Homo sapiens: one gene and its partners. The protein of the gene in region 2 purifies or fractionates together with the protein of the main gene of each other region. This does not show direct contact. Each region holds a gene or a part of one and is shown on either strand. Other genes may lie near its edges.

Region 1 (5,409 bases), on a different chromosome or scaffold from region 2:
CATCCCCTTCATGATACAAGGAGGCTGCTATTTCACTGAGCTTGTGGTCCCCTAGGATCCCTAACACATTTTCCTTACTTCCTTGGTTAGATGGCCATTGATAGAATAATTTGGGACAAATCTAGGCTACCAAAGGAGAGTGTTCTGAAACAGCGCTCATTCATGTTGAACTCCCAACTCCACACCCTTGGGACACGTGGAGCTGGGCCCCTCTGGCCTACAGTGAACGTGGACAAAAATACCTGAAAACTAATTGTTTTAATCAGCCACAGCCAGACTCTATTCCCACCCTGGAACCTGAGGCCAGTATTCACTCTGCTTTCTCTGAGGATACCTGGGAAGCCCCAGGCTACATTGTATGCGGCATTCCAGTGCTGGAACCACATCTGGAAGTGGCTGGGGTTGGGCAGATGCATACCCCAGGCAAGCACAAGGACCAGGTGGAGGGCCAGCAGCCTGTGGAGGGTACAGAGCCTTACCCTGTTGTCCTCAGTTTCCACAGTGACCTTCCCATCCTGAGAACTCTTGATTTTCCCCTTGGCATATTCTTCCTTTGAGTCCACCACGAAGCAATACGTCTTGGCATCAAAGGGCTGGTTCTGAGCCTCGATCCTCTCCTTTTCTGACTTCCGGAGGAAAGGAGCAGCTATGCCGAACACTTCCATTTCAGTGTCACTACTCATGGTGTCAGCTGGAAGGCAAACCCACCCGGTGAGCTCAGCAGCCCCCTTGCCAGGCACCCAGCAGCTCCAGGCCTGTTTCAGCCTCCACCCTGCCCTCCTTCAGCCGCAGGAGCCCTCAGAGTCAGGGCCCCAGGAACCAGGCTGTCCTCATGCCTTGAGAAGCTCCACCCAAAGGGCTTCAGTGCTGGGAAATCACACGGGTGCATATTTATTGAGGGGCTTCTTGTGCGACAGTCTTACAGCCTATTTAACCCAAGCTCCTCAAGCATCTGAGGCTTGAACTGGCGATAAGGGGTTTGGAAGTGAGCACCACTCTTGGGACCGCCTTTTCCGCTTCTGTGACAACCAGGTGTTGCTGAGGGAACGTTTAAAAATAAACACCCTTAAAAAATAAACGCCATCTTCAAAGAGAGTGTGCTAATGGCAAACAGCAAAGATATTTTTGAACCATTTCAATCAAGGTGGCTACACGCTCGTATGCGGGAACCTGCCTTTTGCTTCCTTGGGTTGCTAAGAACAAAATCAAGCATCTGACATCAGCATCTGTTTGACAGTCCCCCAAATGCCACCTCCTCTCCCGCCTGACCTGTCCTTGCCTTTTTTTTTTGAGATGGAGTCTCACTCTGTCACAGACTGGAGTGCAGTGGCACGATCTCCACTAACTGCAACTTCTGCCTCCCAGGTTCAAGCGATACTCCTGCCTCAGTCTCTTGAGTAGCTGGGATTACAGGCACTTGCCACCACGTCCTGCTAATTTTTCTATTTTTAGTAGAGACGGGGTTTCACCATGTTGGTCAGGCTGGTCTTGAACTCCTGACCTCATGATCTGCCCACCTCGGCCTCTCAAAGTGCTGGGATTACAGGTGTGAGCCATTGCACCCGGCCACGACCTGTCCTTGTCTAAATGTGCTAGTTCCCCTGTCCCTCTGTGCCCTTATGGCCGGTGGGAGGAGGGAGAAAGGAACTGGCAAGCTTGGATTGCCTGGAGATCTCCAACAGCCGAGGGACAGGGCCCAACTTCTCACCTGAGAGTCCCACCTGCAGGATGAGAGCAGAAGACAGCAACAGCCAGGAGATCCCAGACCTGGAAGAATATGCACATACACAACTTAGCGGCACTTGGGGTGGCTGCGTCCATGTAGAATCGGCTTCTGACGAGTTAACTAAAAAGGATAAAGGGGCCAGGCGCCATGGCTCACGCCTGTAATCCCAGCACTTTGGGAAGCCGAGGCGGAAAGATGGCCTGAGGTCAGGAGTTTGAGACCAGTCTGGCCAACATAGTGAAACCCCTTCTCTACTAAAAATAAAAAATAAATTTAAAAAATTGCTGGGCGTGGCGGCAGATGCCTGTGATCCCAGCTACTCTGGAGGCTTAGGCAGGAGAATCATTTGAACCTGGGAGACAGAGGTTGCAGTGAGCCGAGATTGTGCCATTGCACTCCAGCCTGGGCGACAAGAGCAAAATTCTGTCTCAAAAAAAAAAAAAAAAAAAAAAAAGACTAATACTTTAAAGAGGCAGGCTGGAAGATGGAAGAGCAGATGGGACGTGACCCACAGGAAGCCAGGCAGGGAGGAAAAACCCTCAGCTGTGCAGAAATCTGGTTTCTCTCAGCCTGCACTGGCACCTTCTTCAGTCTTCCTCACTCCCATTTAGAATCGGACAGCAGGGACCGCATCCCTGCTTAAAGTCAACAGTTCGAGGGCAGGGGCAGGTCTCCTTGTCTGTGAACAGGCAATATCTCTGAGATTAATTTACACGCAATGCCCACAGCCAGTGTGGTCTTGAGAGGACAAGACACCTGGCAGATGTACAGCCCAGGTGGGGAAGGTGAGGGCAGAGTGAGGTCCCCAGTCCTGTTGACCCTTCATGGGTCACAGAGGCAATGGGAGAAGGTCAAGCCATGGCAGCTGGGCTCACGGGGCATCCAAAAGGATCCTGCCCAAGAGGACACTTGGAGAGGAGGACAGGGGAGAGTGTGTGGAGGAGAGAGAACCTGCAGGGCTCCTGCTTGGGGGAGGTGCTGGAGCCAGAGGGTGCTGGGTGTTTGGGCCCAGGGAACCTCGCTCTCTACACCTTGCTTATCCTAAGAAAACTCAGAAAGGCATGAGGCGCCACCTCAGCAGAGCCAGGCAGGGCCAGGGAACCACGCACGGGGTGTGGATGTGCTCACCGGGTGGGTGTGCTCCAAGCAGCTGAGACCTAGAAGAGGAGCCTGTGACTTACCTCCGCCCACAAGCGAGCCACAGAGGGCTGGCTGCTCCCCGGGGCTTTTATAGGCCATTGGTAACCCCCGCGGCTCATTCCTTCTCTATATTTGGCAAGAGGATGAGTGGCCCCCCCAAGCCGAGAACCAGCTTCTTCCACACGTATCTTTGTCGTTGCCAAGGGAAAGGTATAATTAGAAATGAGCAGGATCCATCACCATTTTCCGACCGCAGAATGTCAGGAGCTTGGGATGCCTTTCTCTGAACTTGGGGCCGGTGCTCCCTCCCCTGATGGGATGGGATGGCCTCACTCCAGGAGGAGTTGCGGGGGCAGCCACCTCCGTTCTCAGGCGCTCATCACACCCTGAACGCGGCGTGAGCCCCTAGCTATTGGGCACCAAGGACTGAAGTCGGGTGGCTTACTTAGAAATCTCATCATATGGAAAAGTGAATAAGACTGAGAGTGAAAAGTTGAAATCCTTTTTGAATTTTGAGCAAGATTTTATCACAACCTTGGGTTGTGATTGCAAAACCTGTGCCAGGAATAATTAATAATAATAATAATTAATAGCAATAATTCCCCTCCCCCCTTGCCCTCTTCTCCCTTCTCCTCCTTCTACTCCTCTCCTTCTTTCTCTTATTTTCTCCTATGCAACGTTCTGTCTCATTAGTATCATTATTAACTTAATTCTTTCTTAAGCTCTAATAGGACCAGCCAGTTAAGTTAGTGACGTGGATCTATGCTGCCAGCTCGTATTCCCGGCGACAGCTGCCTGAGGACCTGTGGCTATTAAGACAGATTACCAATTAGGAAAGACCAGCTGCTGGCTGGGATGGGGTAGGGGGAACGGTGGTGGCCTGCAGAGAAAGGGCGGACAAGGGGGGGCTGTCTAACAAATGTGGTCATCTCTAAATCAGGAGTGGAAAAATAAAGCCTCAAGAGAAGAGTAAAGTATGTCGGACGCTTTTGCCCATTCTCGTTCTACTTTTTTTTTCTTGACAAATCTTTGGGAGGATGGCTGGGTGGGCACCCTGTGGTTGCTTATTCCAAATAGAACTGTTTGTCCATGTTTCCCATAGAAACCGCCCCTTCCGTACACAGCAGTACCAAGCCCCGAAGTGGAGGCCACTCCATGAGGTCTGCGTGGGACCGGGGAGGCAGGGCTGCGGTCTCAGGGCAAAGGCACGTGTATGAAACATCCTCTGTGCTCTGGCCCTTACACACAGTGCTTCGAGAAGACGCAGAGGAAACAGAAGACGCAGCCTTTACCCTTAAGGGTTTGAATTCTAGATGATGAGTCCTGTGGATGCTACAGACGCATTTACAAAATTGAGGTGATTTCACATTGAAGCAACAAGTTTATGAAGCGCCTGTTCCGTGAATGCCAGGCAAGGCCAGTGGCCGCCAATGGAGTCAGTTGGGCAGGGCTCACTCACCCCTTGCCTGTCCACCAGCCACTGAGCGTTGCCCCCACCCACTGCCCCTCTCCCTCCAGGTGAGACTGACATGTCCATCCTTGGAGCCCCTCCTCATCCAAGGAGAGGGTAACCGTCACTCCTAAAGTGTCCGTCCATGTCGTAAAGGGAGTGGTCCCCTGGGGCTCTGCCCTGTTGGCCCAGTGATGCACTGTCTCCTTGGGAGTATTGGTCAGGACAGCCACGGACAGGTAAATATCACCGAGGGGAGCAGCGGTGTTAACAAGGTCCGTGGGGTCAGGGGACAGGGCAAGCTGTCCTGGCTACATCTCCAGCAGTGGTGTATGCAGGGCAGGCTGTGGGTGTGGCGGGGGTGGACGTGGGAACTTGCAGTTCCTACGTCAACACCCAGACCTGTTGACAGGAGGAACTGTGTGGAAATGAAATAGGGGGCAATTTTGCTTTTTCCCTTTTGCAGTGACCAATGTACTCATCTATCTATATAACTACATCCATACTCACCTCCAGGAGACAGAAAAGAAATATTCCCTTCAACATTTCTTTTAGTTCCCTTAAGAGAGCACCCATATCACGTTAGGACCTAATACAAGCTCTAAAATGCTGATGGCTTCTCGCCTGGCTTTCCACACTGTCCTTGTTTCCTTCCTTCTCTTCATCAGAATTCTTCATCTTCAGCAAACAAATATAAGTGAATCTAGGAGAAAACGTCACAGACTCCTAGAGTGTTCAGCTGTGAGATCTTGGCAGTTTCTTTTAGTCTGGATCATTCCTCCTATCTTACGTATTTATTTTTCAGTAATATAGACATCACTGGACACTTTTTATGTGTCAGGCACAGAACCCAGAACTTCCAGAGTGCTCCACATGGAGATGGCCTGGTCCCTGCCTTCAAAGAGGCATTCGTCTGTAGGGCTGAGAAGAGGAAGACACGTTCCCCCAGATGAACTGTGTGGTACAAGATCAAAGGTGTTGAGTGGACCAGAAAGGCACCCATGCTGATCGCGTTCAAATGAGGGAGAAAGAACACCCTGCTGAACCATCTCTTTGGCTGAACTGTCTCCTTTTCAGATGAGGAAACCGAAGG
Region 2 (5,311 bases):
CAGATAAGTGGCCACCCCATCTCCGGGAAAGAATCAGTCCTGGGGGATAGGACCAGTGCAGGAGTGTGAAGGGGAAACAATTGGGAGGAGGGTGGGTGAACGTGGGGAGAGCAGAGGCCGGAGGGACAGGAGAGCCCAGGAGAGAAGGAAGGCGTCACCTGGTGGCCAGGCCTGGAACTGCAAGTATCTCTTCTGTGAGGCCTCCTGCCCTGTGCAGCAGGACTAGGTGAGGGATTGAAAGTGCCCTGACCTCTCAACCCAGCACACATCAGGGAGAGTTAATCCAGGTTTGCAGAGGAAGGAGAGTATGAAAGCCGGCAGGAGAAGCGGCTCTTAATGGAGAGGCCTCTTCTGATGGCCAGAGTCAGGGGCAGGACGGGGTCATTTCTCGGAGGTCAGGGCTCTGGTGAGCTGAGCATCCTGGGTGGTGAGTGTGTGCAGTGTGACGTCACAGGGACTGGGCAGAAGGGGCCCCAGGGGACCCTGGCAAGCAGCCACCAATTCCTTAGCCCTCCCTTCAGATCCCGAGCTCCGGACTGCAGACAGGGTGACTGGAGCCCAGCACAGCCCTCTCTTCCCAAGCCCCAAGTCTTCCCTTTCTTCTCAGGGCTCACAGTCAGAGCTGCAGAAATGACCAGGAAACTGGGTTTTTAATGAAGAAGGTGTGATGCCTGTGGACACTGTACACACATAGAAGGAGTGTGGCACAGGGCTGGAGGAAAGGTGTTCTCACCCCCTCCTCCTCCTCCACTTGTTACACCACGGGGTGGCTGAGAAGCCCCAGGTGCCTCATGGGTGGATAGAAGCCCACCCTGCCAGGGTGAGGTCTTCAGACACTCGCGTTTTTCCTGCCTCTTGGGTATCTGTTTAATCCCAGTTCCAGAGGAGGGCATGCAGGCTGGAGGGAAGAAGTGGGGGAGAGGTGGGAAGGGATGCTCCAGACACAGGCAGAGAGGTGAGTGAGCTGGGTTGGAGAAGAAGCATGAAGCAGGAGCTCAGAGCGCAGCACAGCAAGCTGGCCTGTAGGGACAAAGAGGCAAAGCCATCAGTTCCCGGGGACCTGTGTGCAGCGCATGAATCCCTGACTTACCTACAGCACATGCAGTCCCCAGGGCTTCTCAGCCCTAGCGCACCCCGGACTGGATCTTCATTCATAAGGGCTCCTACAAAACCTCAGCTTCTCGGCCCTCGGGCACAGTTGCTCCCCTTTTGGGACCCCTCACACCGCTCCTCCACACTGCGGCCCTCAGCTCTTACCTAGCCTTGCCATGCTACTCTGTGGCTGCTTAATTCCCACCTCCATGCTTCTGTTGCACCATCAGCCCTTCAACATGCCCTTCCCTTTATCAGCTAACACTCGCTCGTCGCATCCTCAGAGAGCTCCTCCTCTCCAGAAAGCCTGCTCTGACCAGTGCTGTCTGGTGGATGCCTGCCCTATTGCACATTCTCTCAGCACTTCCGTAGAGGGTTTTACGTGGCCTGATTTCCTTGCTTTGCCCAGTTTCTCCAGCTATTTCCTCAGATGGTGGGAAGTCTTAGCTTCTGTGAGTGGTAGCTCCTTGGGAACAGGTACTGTGAGTGCTGGGTACTTCGCAGGGAGCACAAATAAAGGACATCACCAGGAGGTATTTAAAAGTGCATAGATTCTCAGAAAGTCAGAGATGAAGGGATCCCAGGGACCCTCTAACCTAGTGGTTCTCAAACTCTCATGTGCATCAGAATCACCTAGAAGGCTGGCCTCACCCCAGAGTTTCCAATTTAGTGGATCTGGGGTGGGGGCTGATCATTTGCATCCCAGGTGATGTAGACGCTGCTGGTCCCAGGACCACACTTGGAGAACCACTGATTTGATACAGCCCCCAATTTCATAGATAATGGGAACAAAAAGGGCCGCCAAACAGAAATGACATGCCCAAGTATCATGGTGCTGGAGCCAGGACTGAGCCCAGGAGAGCCGACTCAAATCAGTCTCATCGGTGCCTTAGTCCGTGCATCCGTGCACCACACTAAGTACAACCCGCCTGCCCATTGTGGACTCCCTCATTATCCTCTAGACTCTGATGGACCCCAGAGAAGGGAGCTGGTCTCTAGGTACCTCTATTGTGAGGTCGGAGACTTGGCGGCATCAAACATCTTCTTCCGGCCTTCCATGCCAGACATGGCCTCCACGTTCTTCCTCCAGTCACCCACCTCCACAGGCCGCTCCTGTAGACAAGTGGCACACACATCAGGGACTTACCAGGCTGGACGGCCCCCCAGCTCAAGAGAAGCTGGGTGATAGGAAACCAGTCTCCTCGGATGATAAGAAATCCTGATGCCCCTCCCCAGCTGGTAAGGTCCTAGGACTCAGCCAGGCAGGTGGACACAGGCCAAGCCGAGGCCCCACAGGAAAAAGGAAGCTGTGTGGCTTGGGAGCACTGGGTGAAAGTGGCAGCTATGGGGCTAGTTCCCACCTCAGTGCACCTCAGCAAAACCTCCTCCAAGGCTCCATGCCACCCTCCTGGTCTGGCACTCAGCAGGCTCAAGGCCACCTCTTCCAAGAAGTCTTCCCCTGCAAATGCGGCTGCTTTTCCATTTCCTCAGTATATTGTCTGGCTTATCTCTTCTCCTCTGAAGCTTCTTGGGCCAGAGACTGTTCCTTCATCCCTGTTCCTTACAGAGCCTATCAATTTGGGGCACATATACTGTGAATTCAACCAACTTTGAATAATTTGTTGCTGGGTGGTTGAACTCAGTTCTCTAATGTCTATGCTCGTGTGTGGCTATAACCAAGATGAGCTGCTGTCTCCTTTCCCTGTGGTGACCAGGCAGTCATCTCCACCATTACCCTAAATCTCCACATTATCTTCACACTGGGAACAAGATTTTTACTTCATTTCTCCGTCTGGGGTCTAGCTTTCTTTATGTCCTAGTTTCTTCGTCAGACTGGGAACAGCCTGAAGGAAGGGAGCAAATCTTCTTTCTTTCTTCCCACACTGGTCTCCCAAAGCATTCTAGAATGTTCTGTCTGTCAAGCTGACTGGTCTCCAACAGGAGCTCCTGGGCCAGCCTGAGGCCATGTGAGGGGTTGACAAGGGGAAAGCTGGTAGGGCAGAGGGTGGAATGTTCTGAGGAAAGGGACCTCACCTTCTCTGTGTCTTCCTTCTTCACAGACTTGAGGTTGGCCCGCAGATCCATGGACACCTTGTGCTTGGAGCCCAGCAGGGCCCGGAGCATGGCGTCAGCCGAGACACGGACTCGACGCAGGGGCGGGCGCTTGAACTTCCCACGGAGGTCCATCACCTTCAGCTTCAGGTCCTTAATCTGTAGGTGAGAAGCGCCCGGGGCTCACTGGAGAGGCAGCTAGCCACAGGACACCCTTCCTGAGGACCTCAGACTGCTAGGGTTCCAGCCAGAGATACACCTTAAATTGTCCACCCTTGAAGCCAGACCTATCAGCAGTCACCAACCTTTTTGTCACCAGGGACCGGTTTTGTGGAAGACACTTTTTCCACGGAGAGGTGGTGGGGTGGTTTCAGGATGAAACTGTTCCACCTCAGACCATCAGGCATGAGTTTGATTCTCATAAGGAGCGTGCAACCTAGATCCCTCACATGCACAGTTCACAATAGGGTTCACACTCCTGTGAGAATCTAATGCCGCCGCTGATCTGACAGGAGGCAGAGCTCAGGCGGGAATGCTCATTTGCCCACTGCTCACCTGCTGCAGTGTGGCCCAGTTCCTAACAGGCCACGGACAGGTACTGGTCCACAGCCCAAGAGTTGGAGATCCCTGCTCTAGGACAGTCAGACCCACCCATCCCTTTGCAAATAACCACTGCACATTTGCTGATAAACGGATGGTTAAGTGGACAGATAAAGCCTATTAGCCGTTGCTAACACTATAGCCTTGAATAAAAGGGGCGGCTCCACCAGACTGAGACTTGTCTGATTTGGAAGCCCTATTTGGAGTGCAGGGCTGCTTCCTCTTGTTCCTGCAGCCTCATCCCTGCTTCTAACTTATTCCTCCCCAGTGAGCCTTCAAAGCAGCTCACAGCCTTGGTCCAGCAGGGTGATAAACTTACAGGTCCTAGACCCCTGGAGGAATTCCCAGGGTGTGATCTCTAGGGGGAGTTCTTAGGAGCTTGGTGACCCCACATATAATTCCTGGTGGGCAGAAGTGGGAAGGAGAGAAGTGGCTTGTGCTCCCTCCCTGCCCCCTCCTCACTGCCTGGACAAATGCCCCAAAGGAGCCCTGTCCTTCTCTGCTCTGCCCCTCCCCACTGGAGCAGGGTCTGGGTGGAGCTAATCCTCCCACACCCCATGCTAAGGGAGCACAGAGCACCGGAGTGGAAGCCAGAGACCAGCACTGGTCCCAGGACCACCACTGTGCAACCTAGGACAAGTCTTTGGCCTCTCTGATCCTGAGTGTTCTCCTCTGCAAGGTGCAGATAATAGCCCCTACTTCATCCACAGGCCTATAAGGAGGATCAAAGGCTATAACGAACATGAAAGCACTTCACAAAGGTAAGACGTTATTAACAGGCATATGATTATTTGTGTGGGTGGATAAAGAGAGCAGCTTCTGTTAGGCTGATGAGCCCACATGGCAGGTAGGGAGGAAGTTTGTACTTTTCATGTGTGATTATCCACTCTACCCATCTCCAGCCCTATGGGGCTAGGGCAGACAAACCAAAGTTTCCTGCTTAAGTGGCCCCTTCCTAGGCCCTGTGGAAGGAGGGGACCTCCCATGGCTGCTGCATCCGTGCCCATGCCCCTGCCCAACCCATTATGGCCATGCCCCTTCCCTTCCTTAGACTCACCTCCCTGGTGTTGTGGAGGCATTTGGCCTCAATGTCGTATCGCTCCTCATCCACCACCTCCACCTTGGCGTGCAGCTCCCGGCACAGGTCCTGGGGGCCGCAGATGGATCATGCAGGTGTGAAGAAGAGGGGAACAGAGACATCAGTTTCCAGCCCTTGACCCTCTCCCCAGCCCCTTTGCAAGACCTGGGATCCAGAGAGGAGCTGACAGTCTCCTCCACTCTGAGGCTCATGACGGGCAATAGCTCAAAGGGTATGCCCTCTGTTCTCCTGTCTGAATGTCATGATTTCTTAAAAAATAGTATTCCTTCGCTTGAACCCAGGAGGCGGAGGTTGCAGTGAGCTGAGATCACACCACTGCACTCCAGCCTGGTGACAGAGCGAGACTCCGTCTCAAAAAAACAAACAAACAAACAAAAAACTAGTATCCTTGGCTGGGCACGGTGGCTCATCCCTGTAATCCCAGCACTTTGGGAGGCCAAGGTGGGGGATCACCTGAGGTCAGGAGTT
Region 3 (4,609 bases), on a different chromosome or scaffold from region 2:
ACCTGTCATGGTTTACTGTTTGCTGATAACAAAGAATGCCAATACAGCAGTGAACTATTTAAGAAAAGCTTCATGGCCATTGGCCCTGAGCTCCTCCCCACACCAGACATGGTCATCATCACCGCCATTTTACCTGGCTGGGGAGAGGGAAACAGGCTCAGAAAGGTTAGGGGACTTCCCTAACCTAAGATCACTGAGCTATAAGAGGCAGGTTAGTATGAACCCTGGAGTTTTTTAAAAATCATGTTCTTTCTCCTTTTTCATGAGTCCAGCAAAGTGCTAGGAATAGGCTCCAGTTGAATTTCTTTCTCCAGTTTTCAGGTGGCCCTGCAAATCCCAGGACCCATTTGTGCAGTCCCTACATCCCCTAGCCGTGCCCGGGCAAGGCCATCTCGTGCCTCCCTAGTTCATTTTCTCTCCTCCTTCTCACACCCTGCCTCCCGTCCAGGGATGCAGCAGAAGCAGAGGGCCTCAGCCTGGGGAGTAGATGGCATGTGGCAGGGTTTGGGCTGTGATTTCTTTTTAGAATTCTTGGAGAACTGTTGGTCCACAGCCAGCCTTATTGCTGGGAAGGGAAGTGATTTGATGCAAGGCTAGTCAGTGTGCTCCTTGCTTGGGCCAGGTGGCCCGAGTCTAGCCCTTACCTTAACCTCCTCCTCCAGCTGCCTCTTGAGGTCCTCCAGCTGCTGGGTGTAGGTGAGCTTGCCTCGGGTCAGCTGGGAGATCAGTGCCTCCTTCTCATCCAGCTGCCGGGACAGCTCACCTGGGGAAGCACCATTCTAGATCAGCACTCCTCTCTATCCCCACCTCCTCCTCTAGCCCTCAGGCCCCATTTTCTGGAGAGACTCTGTGTCTGTGTGTGCGTGTATTGGCTTGTGCCCGAGGCTGGAGTGGCTCAGGAGGTTGGGGAGACTGTGGTGGGAACCATGGAGCCCCTGCTCTAGGCTCACCATTCTCGGTTTGCAACTTGGCCCGCTGGCTGGTGAGGTCGTTGACAGAACGCTGGGTCTCCTCCGCCTTGCTCCGGTGCTCATTCATCTGGTCTTCCAAGGTCCGGCACATCTTCTCCAGGTTAGCCTGAGAAGGGAAGGAGAGTTATATGATGGATGTTGGGGGCGGGGGGAATGAAGGGGTGTAAGAGGTGCAACTGAAGGAGAAAAGAAGAGGGAAGGTGTGAAAAGAAGGAGGGGATCTGAGAACCAGGCAGAGGAAGGGAAGTGGGAAAATGAACCATGAAGGAAGAGACACTACATGGACAGAAAGGGGAGGTGGGAGGAGGAAGTTGGAGGAGGGGAGGCCGAGCAGAGCCTGCCTTGGCCTTGATGATCTGCTCCATGTTGGAGGTGACGTCATCCAGCTCCAGCTTGAACTCGCTCTTCTCCTTCTCCAGCTTCTGCTTCACCCGCTGCAGGTTGTCGATCTGCTCGCCCAGCTCGGCCACGCTGTCGGCGTGCTTCTTGCGCAGGGCCGCGGCAGTGGCCTCGTGCTGCAGCGTGGCCTCCTCCAGGTCCCGCCGCATCTTCTGGAACTCGGCCTCGCGCTTCTTGTTCATCTCGATCTGCACGGACGTGGCCCCGCCGGCCTCTTCCAGCCGCTCGCTGATCTCCTCCAGCTCCCGAGACAGGTCTGAGCGCAGCTTCTCCACCTTAGCCCTGGCGGTGCGCTCGGCCTCCAGCTCCTCCTCCAGCTCCTCGATGCGTGCCTGGTCAGACACAAAGGGCTCAGACCCACCGCCTGGACCCCTCCACTGGAATCCCCCCGGCTCTAAAAGGCTCTCGGCTTCTCTGGAACAGCAAGTCAGTTTAGCTCTTCCAGTGGAGAGGTGGGAATTAAAGGATTTGGGGAAGATAGTTTGAAGAGCCTTCCTTTAGGCGAGGGCCTGACAGTCTACATGCTCTTTATTGGAAGGAAAGTGGTTGAAACTTGCTCTTAAAGATGGACAAAGAGACCTGTGTTCTGGGGATATTTTAAGCAGTTTAGTCATAAAAAAATAACAAAAGTTGAAAATGAGAGAGCCGTATTTGTCTGACCAGACAACTAAAGACCTAACACAGCTTCTGCTCTAGAGTAAGGAGGAAAGTCATGCCATCAGAGTCGAAGGACTCTTAAAAACCTCCATGTAACAGGGGAGGGCATGGAGACCCAGAGATCTGGAGTGGGCTCCCAGAGGTCACCCAACTAAGGCAGAGCTGAGACAGGAAGCCAGGAATTCTGCCCTCCAGGCCTGTGACCTTTTCAGGGTCTCTGTGGATCACCTGACCCCTTTTGGATGTATCCATGGGCACACTGTGATAGCTGCGTGCCTGCCTCCATGGACACATAATCAGTTCCTGTAATGCTGTGAACAGGACACCCTAGAGGAGGGGGCAGGGGAAACAGAACCAGCCCAGGGACTCAGCATCCCGCGTGGGTGTCCAGACCTCACCTGAAGCTCCTTGAGCTTCTTCTGCAGCTGGCTGCCGAGGGCCTGTTCATCCTCAATCCTTGCGTTGAGAGCATTCAGCTCAAAGTCTTTTCTGTGGGGAAGGAGGGATGGTGAGGTAAGGGAGACTCGTGGGGCCTCAGGAGGGTCCACCAGTGGTTGAAAATGGTAATGATACAGGTAAAGAGTAGGATTTCATTAGAAAAACAGCTTCTGGGGGTGATGTAGGATCCCTGGAAGTGTAACACCTGCGGTGAGATTGAAATCCAACAAGAATGTAATGGGAGGAGTGCTGTAGACAGGGTGATGGGGCCTGGGCTCTACAGGACATTCCCATCTTTGGTCCTTGTTTTCTCATAATGTAAAATGAGGGGGTCGGACTAGATTGTTTCAAAGGTCCTTTTTAGCTCTGATGGTCTTTAATTTTGTCACTATTGCTTTGGGTAACTCAGCTAACCTTTCTGAAACTTATTTTCCTCTTTGGTAAAGTGAAATTAAAGATACCATCCTTAAAAGGTGTTTTGAGAATCAAATAGGATCGTGTATTTATTCATTTATTCAACACATTCTGTGCCTGGGAAGGTATGAAGATTCCTGTGCAAACACAAACTTGATGAGGATGTAGATTATGATGATTCTCAAAGCCTTTCAAAGTCCTGAGCCTGAAACACCATAAGACCTTCAATTATCAAAATATGTTCTGCAAGCTCACTGTTTACCAAGTCTGGAAAGTCTATACATTTTGGAAGAACTTACACTAAGAATTGGAACCACAAGTTAAGCAAAACAAAGAAATGGCCCTGATCCCCTGACTTCTTTAATGTGAGGGCATTTCTTGGTGCCCTGTGGGCTCTCTGTGAAAAGCCACAAAGGGACTTTCCTAAGAGGCTCTCATGTGGAGCCTTCCTCCATGTCAAGGAACTGGTCTCCAAAGAGAGATGTGTATGAAGGGGGAAGGCTGTTATTTTCATTCCCACTGAGTGCCTAACAAGAAGAAAGGACTCATGGGATACAATGGACTTTTTGCCAGGGAGGACCATCTAACTAACCCTGATATCTGGGACTAGGGGAGGAAAGCCCTTGCCTGGGAGGCCTTTTCCCATGGTTTGCGCCTCCACTTGTGGAGGCTGCGTGAGGTTGTTGCCTCAGAGGATGGCTGTCTTGGGTCTGCTTGTACTGTTATGGGCTGGGGAGGAGGAAGGGCAGCAGGGAGGGGACACAGTACTTTTTCAGCCGCTCATCCAGCTGCTGCTTGTCATTCTCCAGGTCCATGATGCTCTCCTGGGTCAGCTTCAGGTCGCCCTCCAGCTTCCGCTTCGCTCGCTCCAGGTCCATGCGCACCTTCTTCTCTTGCTCCAGGGATCCTTCCAGCTGGTAGAGAGAAGGAGCCAGGCCCAGTGAGGCAAAGCATCCTGACTTGGTGATTTTGTTGTTCAGTTACCTCAGGACTTGGTAAATCTTTGTGTTCAGGACTTGGGAAACCTTCCCCAGAGTGGGCCAAATGTTATTAGGGGACTGTGAGATTGCCTAGATATAGGGGATGCTGAATCAATATTTTATAGATAAAGGAATAAATGACTGTGGGATGAAACCCCAAAGCCGTATTCTTTCTTTCTTTCCCTTTCTTTCTTTCTTTCTTTCTCTCCTTTCTTTCTCTCCTTCCTTCCTTCCTTCCTCCTTTTTTTTTTTTTTTTTTTTATGGAGTCTCACTCTGTCGCCAGGCTGGAGTGCAGTGGCGCGATCTCGGCTCACTGCAACCTCCGCCTCCCTGGTTCAAGGGATTATTCTGCCTCAGCCTCCTGAGTAGCTGGGACTACAGGCGCACGCCACCACATCCAGCTAATTTTTGTATTTTTAGTAGAGATGGGGTTTCACCATATTGGCCAGGATGGTCTCGATCTCTTGACCTCGTGATCCACCCGCCTTGGCCTCCCAAAGTGCTGGGATTACAGGTGTGAGCCACCGCGGCTGGCCGCCGTATTCATTCTTTCAGCATCCTATAAACACCTACTGGGCATCAGGCTCTGTGCTAAGCACTGCAGTCCCCAAATTGAATAGATCTAAGTTCCTATCTAAAGGAAGCTTGTAGTCTTATGGCTGAGATAGAAGCTTAAATAATTAAAATACAGAGTGATAAGTGAGTCAACAGACATATGTGCATCAGAGGGAACAATGATCAGATTCTGC
Region 4 (4,609 bases), on a different chromosome or scaffold from region 2:
TGGCTGGGACTACAGGCAGGTGCCACCACGCCAGGCTAATTTTTGTATTTTTAGTAGAGACGGGGTTTCACCATGTTGACCAGACTGGTCTCGAACTCCTGACCTTGTGATCCACCCGCCTCGGCCTCCCAAAGTGCTGGGATTACAGGCGTGAGCCACCGTGCCCAACCTCTACTTTTCTTCTTACACTTTATCCTCTTCATTTCAAGCCACATCCTTTCTCTTCCTTTTCTGAACTGGAGGCTCTTTTGTTCAGTGTCCTCTCAACATTTGTTGAGAACTCCCACATGCATCGTTCCCTGCTGGGCATGGTACAGGGATGCATGTGCCACCCTCACTGACCTCCAGTTACTCCCCATCTTGAGGAAACATGAGACAGCTATATCAACACTCATAACACAAAGTGGAGAACGGCAGGTGCTACAGAAGCCCAGCTGGACTGTGGTGAGGTGAGCCAGGAGGTGGCTTGACTCATGGGCTCCCCTGTGCCTGCCTATGGAGTCATGTGCTTTGAAGCAGCAGGACCCTGGCCCTTTGTGTCTTCAGAAGTCCCCTGGCCCAGTGCAGGGGCTGCCTGCTTACCAGTATCGGCAGTTGCGTAGGAGGAGAAGAGAGTGGCCATGAGCTTGAGGGAGGACTTCTGGTACAGGGCCACAACAGTCTCGTTGAGAGGATCCTTGTTTTTTTCCAGCCAGCCCAGGATGTTGTAGTCCACAGTGCCGGCGTAGTGGATCAGGGAGAAGTGGGCTTCCTGCTTCCCCTTGATGTTGCGTGGCTTCTGGAAATTGTTGGACTTGCCCAGGTGGTTGTCGTACAGCTTGGCCTTGAAGGTCATGTCAGTGGCCTTGGGGAACATGCACTCCTCCTCCAGGATGGACATGATGCCCATGGGCTGAGGGCAGGGTGAAGAGGCAAAGAGAGAATCACTGAGCACACTCCCAGGCTTCCACAGTCCCATACCCTGACAGGAAAAGGAATCTGGAGCCAGTAGCGCTGGCCTGCTGAAGGGGCGCTGTGCTGGTACCTCTTACCCTAAAACAGGAAGCCAATATTCCTGGAATTTAAAAAGCCCCTTCCTCCTCCTTTCTGCCCAGTGGGTCCAACAAAGAGTCATGCACTCCTAATCACCCCCCACAAGGCCCACAGTGCCTCACAGCACAGCCCCTTCTCTCTGATGGCTCACTGCCCCAGGGGCAGGAGGGCAGGGACAGATGTGTGTCAGAGGCACCGGGCCAGGCTCTGTCTGTATGACACCAGTAGCAATTCTTCAAGGGTTAGATAGAAGGATCCAGGTTCTTTACCACACTCTGCACTTCCAAAAACCTGGTGGTTCTTGATTTTTCTTGGGGCAGGAATCCTTTTAAGAATTTGTTGAAGCTAAAGACTGTCTCTCCAGAAAAACGCATGTACACACACACACGTACACACACACACATGCACAAGCACACACATGTATGTATGAATGTACACATGCTTTTTTCCACACACAGTTTTATGGCATTCTGAGGGCTCTGAAACATGAGAACTCTGGTTAAGAATCTGGATAATGACCCAAAGCATGTGGGGAAGCTCCCATTTCATGAAGGCCGTGGCTGGGCTGGGTGTGGGTCAGACAATCCGGGCTCTGGCCTATGCTGACAAAGAGCAGAGGTTCACTGAGAGCAAGTCAGCCCCAGCCTATGGGGCCTCCCGCCTGCGGCCTTGTCTCTTCTGAGGAATGCCCATAAGCAAGAGGGCTGGAGACTGGCTTATTTCTCAACCAACAGGAAGGTGGTGGGAGGCCAAACATCTCTAATTTCAGCCTAGGATCTTTCCATGAATGACGCTTCTCATGGGCGGTCAGAGGGGCCAGGGGCCTCTCCTTCACTACATCTCACTCTTAAGACACTGAGGGGACCACCACAAAGGGGCATAAAGTGCAAGGTCCTGGGAAAGGAAGAGTGGGGGGATCATCCTGTTCATGCCCATGACTTCACAGTGGGGAGAAGCTGGGCCTGGAGAAAGGCCTGGGATTCTTGGGACTCTAGTTTCTTGGGTGTAGAAGGGACTCAGCCACCACTTTGTCTGGATGGCAGAGGAGGGGGCATAGGTGGTGAGGCCAAGGAGGCACCTTCTCGATGAGGTCAATGCAGGCCTGCAGGTCCATGCCAAAGTCAATGAATGTCCACTCAATGCCCTCCTTCTTGTACTCCTCCTGCTCCAGCACGAACATGTGGTGGTTGAAGAACTGCTGCAGCTTCTCGTTGGTGAAGTTGATGCAGAGCTGCTCAAAGCTGTTGAACTGCAGGGGGCATGAGGGGTGGGAGCAGTCAGAAAGTGGGTGTGAGTGGCCATTGGGGCTGTGCCCGTGCACTGTGCCGAGCCCAGCAGGGTATGGCTGTCCCCTCCATGTCAGGGCAGTGGAGGAGGGCTTCCCCTGAAGACAGGGACAATGACTGCCTCTGTCACCACACAGTCCCCACTGCCTTCCCATGTCTGGTCCACAGCTGGCTCTCAGCAAATGGCTGTTGAATGTAGGAGCAAGCGAGTGATTGTTCTCCCACTCCCAGGGGTCCCAACTCACGTCGAAGATCTCGAAGCCAGCGATGTCCAGGACTCCTATGAAGTACTGGCGTGGCTGCTTGGTCTCCAGGGTGGCGTTGATGCGCGTCACCATCCAGTTGAACATCTTCTCATACACTGCCTTGGCCAGAGCCCCGATGGAGTAGTACACCTGCTGCACGCTCTGCCCCTTGGTGACATACTCGTTGCCCACTTTCACCCGAGGGTGGCACAGCCCCTTGAGCAGGTCAGCTGAGTTCAGCCCCATGAGGTAGGCCGACTTGTCAGCATCTGGTTGAGAGGGAAAGGATAAGTGAGCACTTCCTTTTTTTTTTTTTAAGATAGAGGCTTGCTCTGTCACCCAGGCTTGAGTGCAGTGGCACGATCTTGGCTCACTACAGCCTCCACCTCCTGGGTTCAAGTGATTTTCCTGCCTCAGCCTCCCAAGTAGCTGGGACTACAGACATGAGCCACCATGCCAGGCTAATTTTTGTATCTGTAGTAGAGACAGGGTTTCACCATGTTGCCCAGGCTGGTCTCAAACTCCTTACCTCAAGTGATCCACCTGCCTTGGCCTCCCAAAGTGCTGGGATTACAGGCATGAGCCACTGCACCTGGCCTGAGTGAACACTTTCAGGGAGTGAGCCTCCTTCCCTGTCCTGGGGCCAAGACTTTAGGAAGCATCAGGTCCAATTTCTTTTCCTTAAAGAGGAAGAAATCAAGGCCTGGAAGAGCACAGGGCTTGCCTTGGTTACTCAACCAACGTGTGCCTGAGTCAGGCTGGAGCACAGCCCCCTTATCCGGCCCATGGCCTCTTGCCACAACTGGCTCTTCTCAGCTCTGTCTCTACATCTGTGGCATCTCTGGGTCAGGTCTTTCACAAGCACTGCTGTGGGCATATCCCCACCTTCACCATATCCCTCGCCTCTCCAGGGCAAGGGTGTGGCTGAGGGGCTAGATGTCCTCTGCTCCCTGTCTCCTTCGTTCTCTACCCCAGTGTCTAGCCCTGGACTGGCCATGCTGTCTTCTCCATCCACATGTTACCCAATCTGACTGGCTGAGAGTATATCAGACAGTACCACGCTCCTACCCCCAGCCATCCAAATGTGCCACCCAACATGGGTATTTCTCTGTTTAGAGGAGGAGTTATTTGGTGTAATTTCAAGAATGTTGTAATAACTGTTGGTGTGTTATCATGAACCCCAGCTTGACACTTTGATCTGGGCAGACTTGGAGAAGGGTCCCTGAAGGTAGGGAGGAATGTTCTTGGGCACCTGTCTAGCACTGTTTGCACCTTCACATTTTCTCAAAGGACCTCACAGTAGCCACCAGAGGAGTGAGGAAAGATTGTTGATCCATTTCACTGAGGAGGAAACTGACACACCAATGCCCTGGGCTATGTCCTGACCCCTGGCCCACTGCCTCCCAAACAACATGGTATGAGCCCACGAGGGGCTTACCCAAGGGCTGGGCAGGCAAAGGCCCTGCATTAGTGATGGTGATGTGCAGAGCTCAGGGGCTGTGCTTCCTGGGGCTGGGGGAGTCTTGGGCACAGGAGGAAAATTCCCCACCTCAGTTCTGGTGAGTGCAGCTGGGGTTGAGGAGTTGGGATTGTGGTGGACTCTCTGTCTGCCCACGTCTCCCACGTCCCTGTCCCTCACCATCCCACAACACACCCCACTGCCCCACAAGCCTCAGAGTCTCTGGGATCTGAGTCCCGCAGAGAGCCTGGTCAGCACCTCAGGCCTTCCCAGGGCTGCCTGCCTGCCCCTCCCACCTTCGGTGCCGTCTGGCTCCGCCTGCTCCTCCCGCTGCTTCTGCTTGAACTTCATGTTCCCGTAGTGCATGATGGCTCCCGTCAGCTTGTAGACGCCAGCTTTCTCCTCTGAAGTGAAGCCCAGCACGTCAAAGGCACTCTGGGACAGAGCGAGAGACAAAGAGGGGGGTTGGAGCGGTGGCCCCAGGAGCTCCTGGGGTCCCTCGAACGGCCGCAGCAGCCCCCTCACTCACATCGGTGGCCATGAGCTCCTCGGAGTCATCAATGGAGGCCACGGACACCTCTCCCTGA

What was found. The genes of interacting proteins can lie anywhere in the genome.
Region 1: the proteins of TNNI1 (region 2) and MYH3 fractionate together in Homo sapiens (co-fractionation; one large-scale study listed by BioGRID). This does not show direct contact.
Region 3: the proteins of TNNI1 (region 2) and MYH7 fractionate together in Homo sapiens (co-fractionation; one large-scale study listed by BioGRID). This does not show direct contact.
Region 4: the proteins of TNNI1 (region 2) and MYH6 fractionate together in Homo sapiens (co-fractionation; one large-scale study listed by BioGRID). This does not show direct contact.

The regions. Positions count from the first base shown.
Region 1 is NC_000017.11:10,654,382-10,659,790, forward strand, and holds the start of MYH3 (myosin-3), read right to left. Parts: upstream 2,929-5,409; 5' UTR 2,908-2,928; exon of another isoform or gene 2,855-2,907; intron 1,768-2,854; 5' UTR 1,709-1,767; intron 692-1,708; 5' UTR 684-691; coding exon 480-683; intron 1-479. UniProt on the Homo sapiens protein: Muscle contraction.
Region 2 is NC_000001.11:201,408,231-201,413,541, forward strand, and holds part of TNNI1 (troponin I, slow skeletal muscle), read right to left. Parts: intron 4,892-5,311; coding exon 4,802-4,891; intron 3,304-4,801; coding exon 3,127-3,303; intron 2,206-3,126; coding exon 2,098-2,205; 3' UTR 2,096-2,097; intron 1,021-2,095; 3' UTR 1-1,020. UniProt on the Homo sapiens protein: Troponin I is the inhibitory subunit of troponin, the thin filament regulatory complex which confers calcium-sensitivity to striated muscle actomyosin ATPase activity.
Region 3 is NC_000014.9:23,418,533-23,423,141, forward strand, and holds part of MYH7 (myosin-7), read right to left. Parts: intron 3,794-4,609; coding exon 3,648-3,793; intron 2,517-3,647; coding exon 2,426-2,516; intron 1,703-2,425; coding exon 1,313-1,702; intron 1,078-1,312; coding exon 951-1,077; intron 764-950; coding exon 645-763; intron 1-644. UniProt on the Homo sapiens protein: Myosins are actin-based motor molecules with ATPase activity essential for muscle contraction. Forms regular bipolar thick filaments that, together with actin thin filaments, constitute the fundamental contractile unit of skeletal and cardiac muscle.
Region 4 is NC_000014.9:23,398,146-23,402,754, forward strand, and holds part of MYH6 (myosin-6), read right to left. Parts: coding exon 4,552-4,609; intron 4,458-4,551; coding exon 4,319-4,457; intron 2,833-4,318; coding exon 2,564-2,832; intron 2,282-2,563; coding exon 2,111-2,281; intron 893-2,110; coding exon 583-892; intron 1-582. UniProt on the Homo sapiens protein: Muscle contraction.